4 linked regions of the Homo sapiens genome follow. The protein of the gene in region 1 purifies or fractionates together with the protein of each later gene. This does not show direct contact. Each region holds a gene or a part of one and is shown on either strand. Other genes may lie near its edges.

Evidence for each region. Proteins that work in one complex are often made in the same cells at the same time.
Region 2: the proteins of UNC119 (region 1) and MACIR purify together in Homo sapiens (affinity purification with mass spectrometry; 4 studies listed by BioGRID and IntAct, with this or other methods). This does not show direct contact.
Region 3: the proteins of UNC119 (region 1) and PALD1 purify together in Homo sapiens (affinity purification with mass spectrometry; 4 studies listed by BioGRID and IntAct, with this or other methods). This does not show direct contact.
Region 4: the proteins of UNC119 (region 1) and C12orf75 purify together in Homo sapiens (affinity purification with mass spectrometry; 4 studies listed by BioGRID and IntAct, with this or other methods). This does not show direct contact.

Annotation. Positions count from the first base shown.
Region 1 is NC_000017.11:28,549,825-28,553,914, forward strand, and holds the start of UNC119 (protein unc-119 homolog A), read right to left. Parts: upstream 2,801-4,090; 5' UTR 2,734-2,800; coding exon 2,514-2,733; intron 2,269-2,513; exon of another isoform or gene 2,241-2,268; intron 1-2,240. UniProt on the Homo sapiens protein: Involved in synaptic functions in photoreceptor cells, the signal transduction in immune cells as a Src family kinase activator, endosome recycling, the uptake of bacteria and endocytosis, protein trafficking in sensory neurons and as lipid-binding chaperone with specificity for a diverse subset of myristoylated proteins.
Region 2 is NC_000005.10:103,265,263-103,268,762, forward strand, and holds part of MACIR (macrophage immunometabolism regulator), read left to right. Parts: intron 1-645; 5' UTR 646-735; intron 736-3,500. UniProt on the Homo sapiens protein: Regulates the macrophage function, by enhancing the resolution of inflammation and wound repair functions mediated by M2 macrophages. The regulation of macrophage function is, due at least in part, to its ability to inhibit glycolysis.
Region 3 is NC_000010.11:70,537,767-70,541,266, forward strand, and holds part of PALD1 (paladin), read left to right. Parts: intron 1-44; coding exon 45-140; intron 141-513; coding exon 514-642; intron 643-1,125; coding exon 1,126-1,242; intron 1,243-1,325; coding exon 1,326-1,481; intron 1,482-1,813; coding exon 1,814-1,996; intron 1,997-3,335; coding exon 3,336-3,476; intron 3,477-3,500.
Region 4 is NC_000012.12:105,351,191-105,354,690, forward strand, and holds part of C12orf75 (overexpressed in colon carcinoma 1 protein), read left to right. Parts: intron 1-3,500.

The DNA.
Region 1 (4,090 bases):
GAGGCCCTGGCAACAAAAAGAGCTGAGAGGTGCAGGGAGGGACTCGTGCTGTCAGCCTGCACAGCATCACATCCTCCCCTGGTGGCCCACAGAGGCCTGGAAATCACCCTCCAGGCCCCTGGGCCACCTCCTATTCCTCTGGGGCAGGAACAGGAAGTGAATATAAAGTCATTTTCTCTTCCCCAGGTCTGCTTCTTCCCCAAGCCTGACGCTGTCCCCTCCAGGAAGCCCTCCTGGCAGCCATCTGGTACCCTGGGGCCCAGCATGGACTTTATACAGCTTGGGGAAGAGGCAGGGCCCTGAGTCTACTACAGCCCACATGTGGGGTGGGGAGAGAATGGAAGTGGGCAACCCCTATCTCACCCCATTCACCCTATTTTCACAGAAAGTAAGCACCAGTATAAAGACATAGAAAGAAGGTACAGAGCATAGGGAACGGAGGTGGCAGAGTGGGGAGCAGGATCCCAGTGCCCAACTCCCAGATCCCTGTAAGGCCTTCTCTTCTCCCATTCTCCAACTTTTGGAGCCTCTCTCATTTGGGAACAACTTCCTGCAGTCTAACCTCAGTCTCTTCTACTGCAAACTCAATCTATCAACCTCTCTGTCCTTAGAAGAAGTGAGGAACACGGATATCTATGGCTCAGAACACCACGGCCACTCCTTCTCTTCTAGAAAGGATGAGGCCTGGGACCCAGGGTCAGGTCAGAATAAGGGGCAGAGTGGCCAAGGGCTCAGAACACAACTGCTCTATTCCTCTCAGCCACAAATAGCTTCCTAAGCTGGATTCAGGGCCCAGTAATCTGGGAACAGCAAACCTCAGACCTGCATGATTAGGGTCAGAAGAGACCAGGCAAGGGGTGCCAGGGTGGAAATCCCTGGAACTCTGTTCTCAATTCCTGCACAGGAAGGGGTTCTCATGAAGCCCTTTCCTCTACTTACCCTTCACAGATGCCCCATCTCTAAGGGCTATGAATTTCCTCCAAATTAGGAGACAAATGGTGGTACATGAGCTGGAAGCTCCCTCTAGTTGCAAAATAAACCCCCAAAGTTACTCAGGACTCAGTCAGTCTGAGAAAGTTCTGCCCCAGAGCTAAGCTGAATCCTAAATGCTGCTATTGCAAATTGTAGCCCAACTGGCTTCAACATCAGCCTGGTCCAGCCTCCCTCTCTCCATTGATGCCTGCTTGGGCAAGGGAGCTCAGTACTCTGGGGGCCCAGCTAAGAATGGCTGCTGCCTAGCTCAGTAAGGAGAGAGGAATTGGCCCCCAGGGACCCAGGAGCACAGGCTCAAGGCTGTCTCCCCTCCACAGCTCTGTCTGGGAGTCCGGTGTTCTGCTGCTTTGGAAGCTCTAGGGCTCAGGTCCACTCCAATACATGCCCCCCATACCCACAGAGAGGCCCCCCCCAACAGTTATTCTCACAAAGGGGGCCAGGGCAGGTTGCTGGTGAATGTGGCCAAGGTGGAGAGCCACTGTCTCTCCATGCACCTTTCATCCTTTGAGGCTCATCCAAAGCCTCTGCTATGAGGTTTCCTAGCCCTCGTTCCCTGCCTATGATGACCCCCTCCCCTGCCCTGAAAGCCAAGTTGTTTGACTCCAGGCAGCAGCTATGAGCAGCCCTGTAGGGCCCAAAAATACTACTGATCAAAGAGCCCAATGTACACAGCATGCATAGATGCCAGGCACTGTACAGAATCAGAGGACTTATCTTCACAATAATCTTACGAGAAAGGTATCATTATCCCCATTTTACAGATGAAAAGACATGCTCAGAGAGGTGAGGTTACTTGCCCAAGGTCACACAGACAATTATATGGCAGAGTTGGAACTCCAACCCAGGCAGTCCAGCTCAGAAACTCTTAACCACAGTGGAGACCAAGCCTCCCTTGATGACAGAGCCCCCAGAAGAGGACAGGTGCTAGTCCAGGCTTGGAGGGACATTATGCCACTCCCCATGAGAGGAACCACAGCCAACACACTAAAGCTGCCTGCTCAGTTTCTTTCCCGGGGAAGAAAATGGCCCAAGTCTTCCTGGAGGATCAGGGTGAGGGTATTAATGGTTGGGGAGACATGAAGAGTCTGAATGCCTCCCAAGTAACTCAGCCTCCACCTAGCCTCCAGCGTGGGGGCTGAGGACAGGCTGCACTCAGCCCCTCTCTTCATTAGTGCAGGGACGGGCCTCAAAGCGCTCTGGAGACTCCACAGCTACAGGGCTATGGTTGCAGCTGCTGCCGCACGTACCTCCACGCTGGGAAAAGGGGACGGGCCCCTGGAAAAGGAAGGAATAAATCTCGAAAGGGAGAAGAAGGAGGCACAGAGAGAGATCAAGGGAAGGGGGTACACAGAGATCTCAGACCTGGCGGCAGAAGGGAGAGCAGGGGACACAGGAGAGGGGACTCGGTGGGGGAGGGGAGGCGGGAAAGGGGGCGGGGGCCAGGGCTTGGCGCGCCGGGAGGGCCCCTCGCACCCTCTCCCCTTCCCACCCGCGGGCGGCGCTCCCTCGCGGGTGCTCACCACCGGTGATCCGCTGCAGCCCCAGCACGTCCTCCGGCCCGATCGGCTGCTTCCTCTGCAGCGGCCCCGGCCTGGGCCCTGGGCCTGCGTCCGGCTCCGACTCGGACCCAGATTCGGATTCCGCAGGCGGCTGTGGTATGGGGGCCACGCTCTGGCCCGAGGGCCCCGGAGCGGACTCCGTCGCCGTCCCGGCCCCACCGCCGCCCTTCTTCACCTTCATGGCCTTGCGGGGCCGAGGCTCGCCTGCTGCTGCCGCCGCTGCCTGCGCCGGCTGGAGCCGGGGGAAGTGGGAGCATCCGCAGCCCCGCCCCCGGCCGGGGCCCCAGGTACTGCCCCGCCCCGGCCCCGCCCCTGGGGTGGGCCCTGCGCTGATCCCGCCCGCCGCCCGGCCCAACCCTCCCGAAATGCGACGGGCGCGGGGGATGGGAGTCGGGGTATCCTGCCCTGGGCTTCATTCTGTTTTTCTAACACTTTCTTGTACTGGTACTAGTGGGGTCCTGACTACCTCTCCGCTTACTCATTGTGTTCCAGCCTTTCTGCCCGTGAGTTCCAGGCTCAGGGTCTCTGCTTGGATGGTCTTCCCCAGATGGCCTCTTTTCTCCTAGTCACAGCTCAAATGTCATCTGCTCAAAGGGCCTCCCTCACACCCAGTCTGAAGTCCTTCCCCCTCAGTCACCATCTGACCAGCCTGTTTTTGTCTTTCTAATGCATTATGTGAAATTATTTTTATTTGTCCGCTGACTCTTCCCCCTGAAAGCTCAGCTCTGTGAAAGCACTGGTCCTGCCTACTTTGTTCTCTGTAGGACCCCTGTACCTAGCAGAAGGCTCCCTGCAGCTGGTGCTCAAGACTTTTTTTTTTTTTTTTTTTTTTTTTTTGACCTGATGAATTAGTATCTCAGGTAAAAAGCAGATGCTAACAGCCTTGGGCAATCCAGCTAGGAAGGGCACATGGCCACGTGGAAGCAAAGTGGACCTGTGGGCACAGGAGGACAAACACCAGGAAACTGTTACTTACGCGTGAATGCAGAAAGAGTAGAGCTCAGACTTTGTATCATTCCAATTCATATTCAGCCAGTGTTTATTAAGAGCCTACTACACGCCAGACACTTTACATGCTGATCACATTTACTCCTCACAACCATCTTGTAAGGGAGACATCATCAGTGCCATTTGAACAAATGAAAAACTGAGGCTCAGAGAGATTCAATACCTTATCCAAAGCTCTCCAGACAATAAGTGCAAAAACAAGGATTTGAATTCAGGACTGTTTGATTCCAAATCTGGAACTTTCTGGAACCTCTGACACACACACACACACACACACACACACACACACACAGCACCATGTCCTGAGCTGCTGCCTCCTGGACTCCCGCCAGACTGCACCTGACAGACAAAGCCAACTAGGAGGGAGGGGAGTGAGGGAGAAGGTCCCACAGGTGACCAATGCCTGGCCCCTTCATGACAGCAGGGGCTAGGGCTGTCCCACAGGGACTAGAGAGAGGTGTGGAAGGCAGGGACTTTCCCATAATGCTCCCTCCTCTCAGTGCACAAGTGTGCTATGTTGAGAAATGGGG
Region 2 (3,500 bases), on another chromosome or scaffold:
TATGAAAGATTTACATTGTTGCTGCTTTATGGCTACAATGAGTCGATACCAAAAATTAATTGCATAATAATAGCATCACACGTTGTAAAGAGCTTTGCAGCATGTAAAGCATTCACCTACCTCATTTCATTTGATCCATCTAACAACTGTATTAGGGAGGAAGGGGGGTTATTACGGTCCACATTTTAGAGATTGATATTTATGCAGGGTCAAGAGGCAGAGTTCTTGGCAAGGCCAGAGCTAGGAACTATGGCCTGTGCTTTTGATCCTAGCCTAAGCATTATTTTTTTTCCATAGAGTACTGTGAATCGGTTGAACACATGAATAGGACTAGGATGGTGAAACCAATACTTATTACCTTACTTTTTCTTGTCTCTTTATTTAGCCCAGTTAGGTACTCCTAGTCTCTAGGTAGAATTTAAGTAACAGAGTACAGAGAAATACACATGATAAAATGTTTGAGGATGCATTTAGGTGAACAAACTCAACATCAATTGAATTAATTAATTATTGGGTCCTATATAACCTATACTTGATGTTACTACCTCCTGCTAGTTTTATTCTCTTTTGCAGTTAGAATTGATATCATGTTATAAGTTGTGTTACTTGTTAAATTAAAGGTTTATTTTTGTATTTCATGTTTAGTACCTGGAGTAGAACAGAAAAATTATTATGTCTGTGTTCCCTTGGGACTCATTGGAAATTGTACAGTGACATCTTCTGGGATTTAGTCTGGTAAGTTATATTTTGCTTTTTCCGTTCGTTAACAGTTGTATGAACACAATACCATAATGTGTTTTTTAAAGACTACATAAATAAACAAGTGAATGTGAAATGTCAGTTAATCAAGTGAATGTGAAATGTTGGTGTATTATTGCAAATATGTATACTATAATTACAAATTTTTAATGGTGAGAAATGAACTTATTGTTGCAATATGCAAACATTATTTTATTTGAAATGTTTGGCTAAGTTTTCCTTCCTTTAAATTTCTTCAACGTAAAGATCTTATGAAATAATATTTCAAAGTATAGTAGTTAGAGGTAACTGTTCCAATTTGGGGCAAATTTTAGTAAAAACATTAATCTCCAAACATTGCTGAAATAATTTGCAAAAAATTCTGGTTATATATTATCATACATAAAGAATGAGCCAACAGGTGTCTGAAAGGAGCATTATTTTCACTTAGTCGTACAGCAGTTCACTGAAAATGTGACATTCTTTTTATCACACCCTGAATTTAAACGGTTAAAAATATGCAATGCTGTTTTCTTCCTTTAGTTGTCTTTTTTCAGTGTGTCATCTGTGTATCTTTGCTGACATAGTTGTCCATGTGTCTCGAAGTCTTTGAAGGGAAAAAAGAAATTCATAATGAGCTATGGTAGCTCTTTAGCATCCTTAAGACTATATTAGTGTGACTTCATGCTTTGGTGTGTCATTCTACTTGGCCATTATCTTTGTGCATCCTTGCCTTGAATTATGTAAAGAGATCATAATCCTTAGAGAAAGCGGAGTTTCATAATAAGTGATTTCTAAATTTCTAGTCAGCAGCAGAATGATTCAAAGGAATGGTAGGGAAAAACAAATACTTTAATCTCATTAAGTAGATAAAACCTATTACATTTATGAAAATGCATTTTCGAACATTGGAAAATTGGAAACGTTACTAAAATTTTCAGTTTTGAGGAAAAGAGTAAGAAGTTTGAAAACCATAGTACAAAGTACTTGGAGAGGATATTGAATAAAAAACAATGTGGCCTGGTCACTGACTCAGCTAATAGAAATAAAGCACAAAACTAGAGCAATGGGTAGAAACTACAGGAATGTATGTGTATCTATGTCTATCCATCTATCTCTGTATATACCTATATTTATACAGTTGTCCCTTGGCATCCTTGGGGGATTGGTTCCAGGACTTCCCCCAGGTACCAAAATCTGATGATACGTAAGTCTCTGATACAAAAATGGTATAGTATTTGCCTATAACCTATGCACATCCTCTTGTATACTTTAAATAATCTGTAGATTACTTATAATACCTATTACAATGTAAATGTTACATAAATAGTGGCTGTACTGTATTATTTAGGGAATAATGACAAGAAAACAGTCTATACATATTCAGTGTAGATGTAATTTTTTGCTTTTTCAAATATTTTCTCTCTGTGATTGGTTGAATCCATGGATGCAGAACCCGTGGAGACAGGGTTGACTGTATATATGCATGTACATACAGATATATGTGTAAATAAATCGACATTCTAGCAGAGCTGCACAAGGTGAAATGAGTCATCTTGGGAGGCAGTGAGTTGCCTGTCACTGAAGGTGTTCAAACATACACTGGGAAACTATTAAGATTCCTTTTGATTCCAAAATTATACGGTACAAAAAAATTTAAAATTTGGAGGACCATCTGAAACGTGGAAATATGTGACAAAGAGTTCATTTATTTTTAATGTCAGGTTTATTATAACTTAGTAAAATCCGTCCTTTTAAAGTGTACGGTTTGATGCATTTTGACAAATGTATCCAGTTATGTAATGACCACTACAGTCAACAAATAGAACATTTTCATCACCCCCCAAAATTCCCTTTTTCCCCTTTGTAGTTATCCCCTCTCCCCACCCTAGGCCTTGGCAATTAATGATTGATTCTGGCAAATAGTTTTGCCTTTTCCAGAATGCCACGTAAGTAGAAACATGTAGTATATAGGTGTAATGTCTGCTTCTTTCACTTAATGTTTCCCCAGATTGTTCCACTTCATTGCTGAGTGGTATCCATTGTAGGGATGGACTGCAGTTTGTTTATCTCTTTCCCTGTTGATGGATATTTGGATTGTTTCCAGTTTCGGTGTTTGTGAATGAAGCTGTCATAAATATTCACATTCAGGTGTTTGTATGGACGTGTATTTTCATTTTTCTTGGGTTAGATATCTATGAGTATGGTGGCTGTGTTGTTTAATGAACATTTATTCAATTTTATAAGTAAATGCCAAACTGTTCTCTAACGTAGCTGCACCTGACAAAGGCTTCTAAGTAGCTAAAATAACTACGCCAAAGTGTGTGCAGATGAAGGAGCCCGATTCTCATTCAGCACAGATTTATTTTTATTTTATATGCAGTTTTAACACGTTTGGTTAGCAGATATTTCCAGCCCACAGAGGATTAGGAACAGTAAATTAGAAGGCCTAGGGGTAGGTTGTTAGCAATTATAAGCAGCCAAAAATTATGTTCACCAACATGACTATACAGTAATTACTGATTAAAAACAAAGGAGGGACTTAAAAGAGTGAAACTCTTCTATCTGATAAGTTCTATCTGACAAGTTCCCAAACCTATATGCATATTAGAATCACCTGGGAATCTTTTACAACTTGCAGAACCCAGGCTACACCCCAGATCAGTTAAATCACAAATCTGGGATGGAAAACAGACATCAGCAGTTTTTGAAGCTCCTTGCATGATTCTGGTGTAGACAAGTTTGGGAACCACATGCTAGAA
Region 3 (3,500 bases), on another chromosome or scaffold:
ACTGCCTGAGGAGTCTGTCCTTAACACCCTGTCCTCTCTCTCAGGGAAGCGGCAGCCGACACAGCGTCTGGCAGAGGGCGCTGTGGAGCCTGGAGCGATACTTCTACCTGATCCTGTTTAACTACTACCTTCATGAGCAGGTGGGGCCTGGGAGGAGCAGACCCACGTCCCCTCCTCCTGGGCCTCTCCCAGCCTCCCCACCGCAGTGACTGGCTTGCTGTGGAGGGAGACCCCCCAAGGAACCGGGGAGGGAAGGGAGGCCAGGAGAGACCCAGATTCGGGAGTAGTCCCTGAGCAGCTGGGCATAGGGAGGCCCCACCTCTTTCCACCGGGCCCTTGTCTCTGTCCTTAACCAGGACACCAGACGTCCAGGTCTTCTCTCAGCCACTCCCTTGTCCCTGCTCTGGGCCATGTTGGATATCTTTTGGGGCTTCCCCTGCCATGGTGTGGGCAGGGAGGGTTCAGGATGGCCCTGTGCCCCTGAATTCCTCGTCTCTCTGCCTCGGGCTGCAGTACCCGCTGGCCTTTGCCCTCAGTTTCAGCCGCTGGCTGTGTGCCCACCCTGAGCTGTACCGCCTGCCCGTGACGCTGAGCTCAGCAGGCCCTGTGGCTCCGAGGGACCTCATCGCCAGGGGCTCCCTAGTGAGTATGACTGGCAGTCGGAGAAGTGGGCATGGCTGTGTACTGGCCCTGGCCCCTAAACACTGGATTCCTGTAGGGTTGGGGTAAGCATTGCCCTTGCAGGAGGTGAAGAAGAGAGGCTGTGGGTGTTGGGATCCTCTTGTGAACAGAATGGGGTCATGCTTAGGCCCCAGCAAGCATTTGCAGCTTTGGCAGCTGTTCTGGTACCTTCTCCTCAGTCTCAAACCCAAGAGCTCTGGGCAGGGTTCTATGATCTTTGCCTCCAGCTTCTTCTCTTTGAGCCTCAGCTTCCTGGTCCAGAGAGTGGGCACCATTGCACTTCTTCTTGCCAGGGCCGGGGGAAGCTCCAAGTGTGCAGGAGTGCTTTGTAAACTGTGAAGCTCGGGTTCCACCCCACCCCCCGTCTGCCTTGGGCCAGGTCCTGACCCTTTCTGCGGCTACAGTCGGCTGCTGTGGGTCCCAGGCTTGGTGCTCTCCCCACAGCGGGAGGACGATCTGGTCTCCCCGGACGCGCTCAGCACTGTCAGAGAGATGGATGTGGCCAACTTCCGGCGGGTGCCCCGCATGCCCATCTACGGCACGGCCCAGCCCAGCGCCAAGGTGACCGGCCCTCAGGGCCTGGGTCCCCCAGTGGGTTTGGGGAGGGAGGGCTGAGCACTCACTGCCGGCCCTCCTGTGCCCAGGCCCTGGGGAGCATCCTGGCCTACCTGACGGACGCCAAGAGGAGGCTGCGGAAGGTTGTCTGGGTGAGCCTTCGGGAGGAGGCCGTGTTGGAGTGTGACGGGCACACCTACAGCCTGCGGTGGCCTGGGCCCCCTGTGGCTCCTGACCAGCTGGAGGTGAGGCCCCCTGCCCTCTAGGCACCCCTGCCTCCGAGGCTTCTGGGGAGTGGCCTGGGAGGGTCTTCAGAAGGCCTCACACTCCCGCAGACAGATGGAGAATCTGAGGCCCCGGGAGGAGCAGTGTCAGGGAGTGGCCAACTCAGGATTCCCACTAAAGTGCTCTGCTAACCTGCTTGGCTTTGGGGGGTGGCTGTGACCCCTGAGGCTTGGGGGGGTCAGGGATGGGACTGGAAGCCAGGGCCAGGCCTGGCCATGGCAGGCTGTGGCCTTTCAGGGCTAGCCTAGAGCCTGCCCCAGTGGCCTGTGTCCTCCCTCCTGCCCTTGCCCAGACCCTGGAGGCCCAGCTGAAGGCCCATCTAAGCGAGCCTCCCCCAGGCAAGGAGGGCCCCCTGACCTACAGGTTCCAGACCTGCCTTACCATGCAGGAGGTCTTCAGCCAGCACCGCAGGGCCTGTCCTGGCCTCACCTACCACCGCATCCCCATGCCGGACTTCTGTGCCCCCCGAGAGGAGGTGAGGGTGCTGCTCAGGCTGAGGCCTCTGGGGAGGGACAGGAGGCCTCCCTGTCTCCCCTCTGGTCTGGGCTCTGGGAGAATGAAACGACCCCAGCTTCTCTACGGGGCCCGGGAATGGTCTCACGAGGTTTTCCGATTTGGCCCAAGTGGTTTATTCACATTCCTTCCAAGCTTTGTGTGTGTGTACGTGTGTTTATTATGTGTTATAGGGTATATGTGTGTGTATTGTTATAGGTGTGTGTGTATTGGAGTGTGTATTCTGTTACGTATGTGCATATGTGTTATAAGATGTGTGTACATGTGTTTATTATGTTGTAGGGTGTATGTGTGTGTATTGTGTTATGGGTGTGTGTTATAGGTGTGTGTGTGTTATCGGGGTGTGTGTGTATTCTGTTACAGGTGTGTGTGTGTATTTGTTATAAGGTGTGTGTGTGTGTTGAGGGTGAACATGTCCAGGGTGTCCGTGGTGTGTGTGTCTCAGTTGGGGGACTGTGTATGGAGTGTGTGGGTGGTGTGTGGAATGTGTGTGTGTGTGCATGTCTTTTTATGGAGTTTGTGATGTCTCCCTTGTCTGTATTGGGGGCTGTGTGTGGAAAACCATCTTTAGGGGAGTGGTGTGGTGTGTGGTAGGGTTTGTGGAGGGGTCGTTAGGAATGTGTGTGTGTGGCATCTGTAGGTCTGTGACTGTGGGTGTCTGTATAGTGTGTGTGTTTACCGGACGTGGATCCCTGTGTGGTGCGTGTGTCTGGCGTGTGTTGTAGGTGAGCCACCGTGTGCGTGGTGCGTGTGTTGTAGGTGGGTCGCTGTGTGCTGTGTAACTGGCAATGGGGTCTGTTACCCTGCCTGAGCCCCTCCTGGCGCATCTCTTCGCGGCTCTCACTGCCTGCGGTCTGCTGCCTCCTGGTGGCCTTGTGCTGCAGGGCTCTTCTGAGGTCAGGCCCCCGTCCATGGTGGGACCAGGGCTGGGTCCAGCTCAGGTGGGTGGCAGGGCCAGCAGTCTATGTGCAGCCCAGGGGCGCAGTACACAGGGGTGACATACAGGTGCATGTCCTGCCTGATGGAGGGTGGGTACCTTGAGCCCCAGGTGCATGCTGTGTTGGCTCACACATCCTGTCCAGGTGCTTGGTGTGAGGGTGATTACGACTGCACAGGTGCAGCTGTTTACACGCACATGGTCTCATGCACCCCGGTGAGTTTTGTTTGTGTGTGCAAGCTTGGGAGCCTGACAATTTCTGGCCCGAGGACAGTGGCTGGGGCTGCCATGTGGATGGGGACCCTGTTGGGGTTTGTGCATCCAAGAGACGCCCGCTGACCCAGACCTTGCTTTTCTCGTCCAGGACTTTGACCAGCTGCTGGAGGCCCTGCGGGCCGCCCTCTCCAAGGACCCAGGCACTGGCTTCGTGTTCAGCTGCCTCAGCGGCCAGGGCCGTACCACAACTGCGATGGTGGTGGCTGTCCTGGCCTTCTGGCACATCCAAGTACGTGTGGCCTCTCAAGTGAGA
Region 4 (3,500 bases), on another chromosome or scaffold:
ATTAAGATGACACTTAATTTTTTTATTATGCACATTAAAATTTTTTTTTAAAATCTAAACAGACTGATTCCCAAACCAGAAGGATTGGCCAAAATAGTAGAATAAGTACTGAGAGTAAAGAACTTAGAATAGGGCAAACACAATATTATGCAGACCACAGGAAAGTCTTTGTGGGAAAATGGTTGTTATTTTTGGAAGCCAGAAATACTATATATTTAAAAAATCAATTCTCTAGGAAAGGTCTGCAATTTTTACTACTCGTTTTTCTTATTTATTTGCTGTTTTCTATAGGTGAGAAGTCAGTATATAATAATAAATAAAATGATGTATCTGTCCTGAAGTAGTTCACTGTCTACTAGGGACCAAAATACAGTGTGGTAAGTGCTAATTATTCCAGTGTTCAGAATTTAATGCTGGTCTTGGAATTGAAGGATGAACAAGAGTTCATGCAGAAAAGGAGAAAAATGGCAACCCATGGCAGAGGACAAGCATGAAAAAAGGCATGGGAGTGCCAGAGGACAGTAGGTCTGGGACCAGCCAGCCAGGTGGTGTCCCCTGGAGCCTGTGCCTGTGGTACAGTCTGGGCAGAAGTGAAAGATGAGGTTGATGGGCAGGGCTGGCTTGTGAAGGGCCTTGGGTGCAAGGCCAATAATCGTGCTTGTTTTTTTTTATGCATTCAAGGGCTGATAGAGATTTTAAGGTGGAGGAATTAAATGATTATGTTTGAGTTTTAGGGCAGTAACTCCCAAAGCAGTGTGACACATGGGATGAGGGAGGGTGCAGGCACAGAGGAATAATGGAAGTGAGGCTACAAGAGGGTCAGATAGCAGAGGGAAAGGAGAAGAGGTGATACAAACAAGATGCATTAGAAAATGTAATTAATAAGATTTGTTTAATGACTGAACGGGGAAGGAAAGGAAAGGAAACTCTGAGGATAATGCTGCAGTCAAACTTGAGCCAAGGGAAGCGATGGCTGATAGTCCAAAGAGGTCATGGGGGGCTGAAGGAGGAAGAGAAGTCATTGCGTGTGTCATGATGGCCACATTGGTCACCCTGGGGACTGTAGTTTCAGTTGAGCAGGGTGAATGATAACCAAGTCAAAGTGGAAGTGAGCCAGGTGCAAGGAAGTGGAGAGAGTGATGTGGGTCTTTGGTTTTTATGCTGTTTGGCGGTAAGGAATGGAGGGATGTTGGTGGCTTTAAGAGGAGGCAAATTTTCAGAATATACTGTATTAGAAAAAGAATACCAAGGAAATTTGGAAAGTACAGGAAAGTATTTTTTAAGAGAAAAATTCAGTTATTATTCTACCACCAGAGACAATCATTATGAACATTTTACACTTTTCTTCAAGTGTTTTTTGGTTGTTTCTGCCCAGTTGTGAGTATGGTTGATTTTGTGTATTGAAGTTTGTTTTTCCTTTTGTCTTTTTTTAAAAATTATTTTTTGGCATGGAGGAGGCATGGATATTGCTGTAGGCTAAAAGACAGGAACCAGGCGAGTAAGAAAAGCTGATGGTGGTTTGGGGAGGGGGTTTCTCTCTGGTGGTGGAGAGAATAACGATGCATGTAAATCCTATGACAGGCTAGAGAACTCAAAACCTAGCTAGGTTAACCTTCAACACTTGAAAGCATGGTTGACAATGTCTAGAAACTTAATCACCATAAGAAAAAGCCTACATGTGTATCAGAAAACAAGCCTATTTTTCCCTCTCTTTCTGTCTCTTTGAAATTAAATCACAGTGCAGTAACACACTGAACAAAACAAACAAAACAGTGAATTCAAGGTAATGACATTCGGCCGCTTTCACAAACCTGCCAACATCAACCATGTTCTTATTTTAGTGTGGCAGATTCTCAGCTATTTGGCACAAATAGGCTGCGTTGGGATATTTTTGGTAGGAAATGGCAGAAGCCCAGTTTAAACTGGCCTAAACAAACAAACACAAAGGAATTTATTGGCATGTGGAGTGGAAAAGCTCCAGGGACTTGGCTGTAGTCACAGCTGGATCCAGGTGATCAAACAACAGGAAGAAATTCTCTTCTCTGCTTTCGTCTTCATTCTTAGGCAGCTTTCCTCAAGTGGTGACAAACAGGACCAGTTTATATCTTATCAGCTTCCTAATTCCTGTGGAAAAAAGCAGCTTCTTTTTCCTTGTAGTTTGATCAAAAGTCCTAGGGCTGGGCTCTCTTGGCCCGTTGGGGTCATGTTCCTATCTCGGAATCAGTCAGTGGGCCAGGAGAATGTGGGGTGCTCATTGGCCAGGCTGCAGTCATGTGCTCACCACTGGAGCCAATCAGTATCATCAGCCCCACCTTACCATATGGCCAAAGAGCAGAAGAGGGGTGATTCCCCACGGAAAAATTGGGATGCCGTTACCAAAAAAAAGGGGAGAAATTGTAAGTGGGCAAACCGAAACAATTGGAATTTAATTGAAAGCATTTTTTTTTGTAGATCAATTTTCGTGTTCTTAAAGAAGTCTTGATTTAAAGCTTAAGCAATATTTATAAGAATATTATGACTACGTTTCAAATAAGAAACAGTATTAAATAAGTTGACTCAAATATAATGTTTGCTGTTGAAAATAAAAAACCATAGCTACTCAATGTAAACAATGTAATTCAAATACTTCTTTCACTTAAAACATGTAAAGTGAATCTTACTGAGATTCTTTCCTTGGTAAAGCTATTTTATTATTATGGAAGGTAGCAAATACAGGGAAAAATATTTTGGAATGAAATGACATAAAACCCATTGGCAATTTGTTTTTGTTTTTGTGTTTGGAAAAAAGAAATGATAAATCTTTTATGTTGAGTTTCTTGGGATCCTTTATAAATTTACCATGTCTAATGCACCCATGTCAGCTGAGCCCTCTCTGCTCCTCATAGATACAGACCTTAGGGTATCTGATGGGCTCTTTTCTCATCCATGTAGTAGAAGGTAACGCTGTCTTCTGAGGGTGAAGAGGATGGGGTTGAAGTAGCATTGAAAAAGCCTGCATTTTGGAAGCAGAGGGACTTGTGTTTAAAATCCCCTTCACCATTTGCTAGCTGTGTTACATTGTGTCCTTAGTATAATTATCTGTGAAATTGGGATAATATAATAACTGTGCAGGGTGATCATCTTCATCATCATCATTCTTACAGTAGTAGCTAATCTTTACTGAGGACTGTGCACCATACACTGATTTCCAGCATTTTCTGTACGTTATCTCCTTCCATACCCATGATAATCTGATGGACAGAATAATGATGTTTCATTTTACAAGTGAGGAGGTGGGGAGCACAGAGAGCTGAAGTAGCTGCTGGAGGGACAGATTACAAATACAGTATATTTAATATCCTAGGAAAATACTTGGCATTATGCTTGTTGCCCCCGGTGAATGACAGCTAGAATTATTAGTTAGTTTAAAATGTTGTTGAAAAAATTTGGCAGGGCCTCTGACATGAATACTTGATGGCAGAAGACCCAGCATATTGAGGGCCTTGCTGTGGTTAGAAATC